2 separate regions of the Homo sapiens genome follow, and region 2 is linked to region 1. The links come from fine-mapping of genetic effects on gene expression. Tissue or cell type: atrial appendage. Region 1 holds a variant in brackets; the other region holds the start of a gene. All regions are shown on one strand. Distances are between the middles of the regions.

Region 1 (2,902 bases):
CAGGTCGTGGGGATTCTGAGAATGATTTTGTTTGCTTTTTGAAAAAGTTTTAGCTGTTTCGACATTGGAAAATCTACTGCCCACCGGGCATGGTGGCTCACACCTGTAATCCCAGCACTTTGGGAGGCTGAGGCGGGCGGATCACGAGGTCAAGAGATCGAGACCATCCTGGCCAACGTGGTGAAACCCTATCTCTACTAAAAATACAAAAAAATCAGCTGGGCGTGGTGGCATGTGCCTGTAGTCCCAGCTACTCGGGAGGCTGAGGCAGGAGAATCACTTGAACCCGGGAGGCGGAGCTTGCAGTGAGCCGAGATCACGCCACTGTACTCCGCCCTGGGCGACAGAGTGAGACTCCATCTCAAAAAAAAAAAAGAAAAGAAAAGAAAAAAAGAAAGAAAGAAAATCCACTGCCCCTAGGTCCCTTCCAGCTGCAAGATTCTATTTTGGGAGCAGGAGGTGGGTATGGGAAGGGTTAAGCATTATTCAGCCAGAGAGCGGAGTTGAGCCTTGGTGACCTTTTAAAGTTCTTGTAGTGTGCTTTGTGCTGTGGGAGATCCCGTAACATTCTATAAAAATGTAGTGTTCAAACCAAACAGCGACTTCTGAAGCCTAAAAGATGTAGAGGAAGGACTTAACTTTGAGGAACATTTAGGTAGAATTTCCACCAGTCTTGAGGACTCTCAAGATAGCCCTTTGTCCACTCCTCTGTGGTGTGTGTGTGTTTGTGTGTGTGTTTTAACGTCTCCATTGGCTGGTGGCTGGTCCTAGGAGCAGTCACTTGAAGTTGTTTGGGTCCAGAATGGTTTCCATTTTTATCCAGTAGTGTGTGATGTGGGCCCCCTTGGTGTCCCTCTCAAGGGTGGGTGGTGGCCTTTCCTCCTCCCATACTAGGCCCAGTTTGGACCATGGTTTTGCTTGGCAAGGAGGCTGGGCCGCTCATGGATCCAGAGAGGAACATTTCTGCCTTGGCACACAGCTCTGAGTCAACAGGCCTGATAAACAGCTCGTTTCCCAAAGGCCTGCAAGGAACAAAGCCCCTGGCTGCTGAGGGCTCTGTCTACTCCCCATCTCCTGAAACAGCTGTTTATTCTTTCGACAGGAGTTGAAACCAGCACCTTCCCTTTCTCTGAGTCCTGCCTCCTTCTGCAGAAGGGAGCTCAAAAGAACTTTGTTGTTTTGCCTTTTACTCTGGGGTGAAAGCGGCAGGAGGTATGTGAGATGGTGAAATGATTTGCTTCTGCCATGCTGGGGTCACGGGTGGATCGCCCTAAACTCTCGGTGGCCCCCTCAGTAGTTTTGGAAGAGGACCAAGTCCTTGTCTCTCCAGCAGTGGACCTGGAAGAAGGATGCCGGCTCAGGGACTTCACTGTAAGTTCAGCTTTATTTTGCTCCCCTGGTAGGACCTCACAGGGCTGCAGCCAAGCTGC[A/G]GCCTGGAGTTTTTCCTGAAGGATTTAAGTTGTTAATGCAGGAGCAGGGGGCAAGTCTTGGGGCTCAGGGTGAAGTTATGGATGGAGGCAGAGCCCTCTCAGAATTGTGTAGCATCTTTCATTTATCTTACTTTGGTTCTCTGGGAAAAACCCTTGCAGTGATTTCCAGACCAGGCAGCATGGAAAAGCTGGCTGGATTCAGCCTTTAGATTTCCCAAAGGGGATTCGAGAGAAAGCACTGTAAGATATACTTCAGAGAACAGGTCGTTCCATTTGAGATGGCTGGAGCGACAGTGGGCCATGTATTCAGTCTGAGACCTGTCTCTTATTTTCTTGTGTCTGTTTACTCTGACCCTTATAATGAAAAACAAAACTGGAGACAACCTTCCATGCACTTCCCCTGCTTCCCCGTGAATTGTATCGTGGAAGCATTTCCTTGTAAGACCCACCAGCTCACTGAGGTTTTAGGATAATAAGGCACTCTTCCTCCTTACACCCAGCACCATCCCTATGCCAAGGGCTGGGCCTGGGAGGCAGGCATTTTAAATCTGGCACCAAGACTTCTGGGCATGCCCAGTGATCTCTGGCAAGCTATGCCCCTTTGCTAAAGCTCAGTTTCCTCAGCTAAAAAAGCCACACTAAGGCCACCGCACTGACCATTGTGAGGAATAAACAAGATGCTGTGAGTGAGGACACCCCACAACACGCACACAGAAGGTGCCTGGAAATGCTAGGAGAGTTGAGCTGATGCTCACCAGCTGGTCCAAGGAAGAGCTGGCCCCACAGCAATTAACCCATGCAGAAGACTTCATGTTTTCTAGAGCAACAGAGTGGTTAAAAGAGAGGGCACTAGAGCCTGGCTCCCTGGATTTGAACCCCAACTCCACCACCTTATGCTATGTGACACTAGGCAAGTTACTTCACCTTTCTGAGCCTCTGTTTTCATATCTGTGAAATGGGGATAATAATAGAGTAACTTCACTGGGTTGTCATGGGGCTTAACTAAGAGACTCCTGAAAAGGGGTTTAGCCCAGGGTCTGGCCTGGCCTGGCTTGACTGGGGAAAATACAGGTGTTGCAGGGTTTGAAGCTGATTCCATTTGGGGAGCCCTCTTTAAGAAGAAGAATGGGCTGGCCGTGGTGGTTCATGCCTGTAAATCCCAGCACTTTGGGAGGCTGAGGCGAGCAGATCACGAGGTCAGGAAATCGAGACCATCATGGCCAACATGGTGAAACCCCGTCTCTACTAAAAATTAAAAAAAAAATTAGCTGGGCGTGGTGGCGGGTGCCTGTAGTCCCAGCTACTCGGGTGGCTGAGGCAGGAGAATGGCATGAACCTGGGAGGCGGAGCTTGCAGTGAGCTGGGATTGTGCCACTGCACTCCAGCCTGGGTGACAGAGCAAGACTCCGTCTCAAAAAAAAAAAAAAAAAAAAGCAAGGTTGCAAATGCAATGTTAGGTATGAAAGTAAGTA
Region 2 (2,902 bases), 21 kb before region 1:
CTTCTATGCCAAACTCTGACACCTCAAAGTATTTAGCAGAGACAAATATAAAGTCCAGACAAAAATGTATGCTGACAATTCTGAAAGCATTTCTATTTTACCAATAATTTTAAAACCAGCCTGTTTATTAAAGTTATACTTAAGTCATATGAACTTGAAAATTGCTTAGACTTATTTAGTTAATTTATGAGCACTCTTTTATTTATATGCCAATTTGGTAGGCACAAGATATAACAGTAAGTGTACCTACAAATAAACACATCTAGACATGTATATACCGACACAAACAAAGATCCAATAGCTTGGAACTGTAGCCATGAGATAGCAATACAAGCTCGCTGGTTTTACTTTGTTTGCCCCAATAGATAATCCAATGAAGGCTGTGAACTAAAATTTTGGGTAAAGTAGTTTTCATGGCAGTTTGATTTTTTTGTTTGTTTGTTTGTCTATTCATTTAAGACTGAGTTTCGCTCTGTCACCCAGGCTGCAGTGCAGTGGCGCAATCTCGGCTCACTTCAACCTCCACCTCCTGGGTTCAAGTGATTCTCCTGCCTCAGGCTCCCAAGTAGCTGGGATTATAGGCGTGTGCCACCATGCCCAGCTAATTTTTTGTATTTTTAGTAGAGACAGGGTTTTACCATGTTGGCCAGGCTACTCTCGAACTCCCGACCTCAGGTAATCCACCCATCTTGGCCTCCCAAACTGCTGGGATTACAAGCTAGAACCACCTCGCCTGGCCTGGCAGTTTGATTTTTATTTGTATTTATTTTTTATTTTTTCTTTTCTTTCTCAGTCTCCAGCCTCCCGAGTAGCTGGGATTACAGGTGCACGCCACCAGGCCTGGGGAATTTTTCTATATTCTGTAGAGACGGGGTTTCGCCACGTTGCCCAAGCTGGTCTGGAAATCCTGAGCTCAAGCAATCCGCCCACCTCGGCCTCCCAAAGTGCTGGGATTACAGGCGTGAGCCACCGCGCCCGGCCGAATTATTTAAGAAGCGAATTTCTTAGTCTATGAAAATGACGTTCAACGGCAAATGGCAAAATGAAGTTCTGACTTTTCCACCTGTAAAGTAGATTGATATGAGCGGGAGTGAGAAGACCTTGTCGCTATCAGTATAAGACAAGAGAACTGAGGGCAGCCAGTTGTGGCCACAGCAACTCTCTGAGTGAATTGCTGCCACACTGGGCACAGAAGCGCACACTCTGAAATCGAATGTTTGGATTCCTTTCTACATAATTCTACTAAAGAGTTATTCCACAGCCTAGGGGCTGCCTTAGAGCCCCGTTTGAGACACTCTGGGCTCACAGATCATGAAGTCAGTGCGCAAACGCGGGCAGACCCTGAACCAGGTGCCCAACGCCCAGCCCTCACTTCCAGAGCTCAGGACTCTCGCAAGAGCGACTCCAGCCCCGGCCTGCCGCTGTCTACATTCGCGCTCTTCCTTCCTCGGGAAACAAACGGTGGATCAGATCTCCAAGGCTCTGAGTTTCCCAGAGTTTGGCCGTGCGCCAGCGCAGCGCAGCCCCTCCCAGCAGCACAGCACAGACCCCACCCCATCCTCCAACGCCCGGGGTTCCTGCTCTATCACCTACACCACCACCACCACGTGCAGGCCCGAGAAGGCAAAAGAGGCCCAGCCACTCTCACCGGGGATTTTATCCGCCTCCCCGGCACACACACACTCTCACTCACGCACTCGCTCGCCGGCCTTCCAGCTGTCTGTGTCCGGGGCGGGGACCGGCTTGGCGCAGCCCGCTGTCAGCGCTCGCCGGCTCCTCGCGCCCCTACCCGCTGCGCTCTGCCCAGAGCAGAAGCCCGGCCGGCCGGCCCACGGGCGGGAGGACGCGCCTCCGCTCGGGCGGAGGCGGCGCGGTGGCTGATCAGAGCGCGTAGGGCTTCGCCGGGGCCGGGAGCTGGGCGCGGTCCTGCTCAGCCCAGCTCACCGCGCGCCGGCCCTCGGCGCCCTGGTTCTGCGGATCAGGTGGGTCCCGCGGGGAGCCGCCCAGGTCCCCGGAGGCCACGAGCAGGACACGGACGGGGGGCTCCGCGCTTGGGAGAGGGTGGTGAGGGAGTGGAGGCGGGCCGCTGCTCCGGCGCTGCCCGGTGTCTGCCCTGCCTGTGTCCCTGCTTTTGTTCTTGTCGCTACCTCGGTGCCAAATCGGACCCAGTTTCTGTCCCTCTGTCCCCATCCTGTGGCCGTCCCTCCCTCTGTCCAGCCTTCCAAGACTGGAGCCTGAAGAGCTGCAAGCTGAGGTTCCCCCACGGGTCCGCGGGGTTGGGGTGGGGGAAGAGAGGGGAGACGCAGGGGACACAGGATGCGACCAAGTAAGTCGCAGTGAGTGAGGGGTCTGTCCTTGCCTGTGGGGCAGGACAGAGGAATGGCTCTTGCCCAGGACAAGATAGGAAGGGCGCGCCTCTGGGAAGGGGAATCTGGGAGTGGGGGGATAAAGTGAGGGTCGCAGGAACCCCAAGGAGGAAGGGAATAGAGAGGGAGATGTCAGAGAGCTTCGGAGAGCCGAGGACTCAGTCAGACGCCCAGCATGGGGAAAGTTTCCGACACTAACTTTGGCATCCGGGGTGCCTGCAGCACTGGGGCGATGGGAGGCGGGAGTTTCCTCCAACTCTTCAAACCTTGCTCCTACTCGAAAAGGACACCACCCCGCGTTTGGAAATGGCAGGAAAACGGCTAAACACAATGATTGCACAAACTCTTGAAGAAAGTAAAAAAAAAAAAAACAGTAAAAAGAAGAAGAAAAAAATGTCAGCGCGCAAAGAGCCAGAGAAGCAGAGGGATTTGAGATTCCTCGATCTTCCCGCTGTGGCGGCCGGGAGGGACTGGGAGGCGCGGAGGGTGTGAGAGCCGCTCCTCCGGCAGGAAGGAACCGAGACCCGAGGCAGGTG

The links. PIP is the estimated chance that this variant, and not a neighbour inherited with it, causes the effect.
Region 2: GGTA1 starts here. The variant in region 1 is fine-mapped to the expression of GGTA1 in atrial appendage (GTEx, PIP 0.97).

What each region holds. Positions count from the first base shown.
Region 1 is chr9:121,477,535-121,480,436 of GRCh38, reverse strand. All of the region lies in intron 1 of GGTA1 (glycoprotein alpha-galactosyltransferase 1 (inactive)), which reads left to right. Among named protein-coding and RNA genes, the nearest start is that of GGTA1, 21 kb to the left of the region's middle. The variant A/G (reference allele first, on the strand shown) is at 1,431.
Region 2 is chr9:121,498,730-121,501,631 of GRCh38, reverse strand. GGTA1 (glycoprotein alpha-galactosyltransferase 1 (inactive)) reads left to right here and starts at 1,788. Exons shown (of 6, transcript NM_001382585.1): 1 at 1,788-1,982. RefSeq lists a silencer at 1,739-1,838.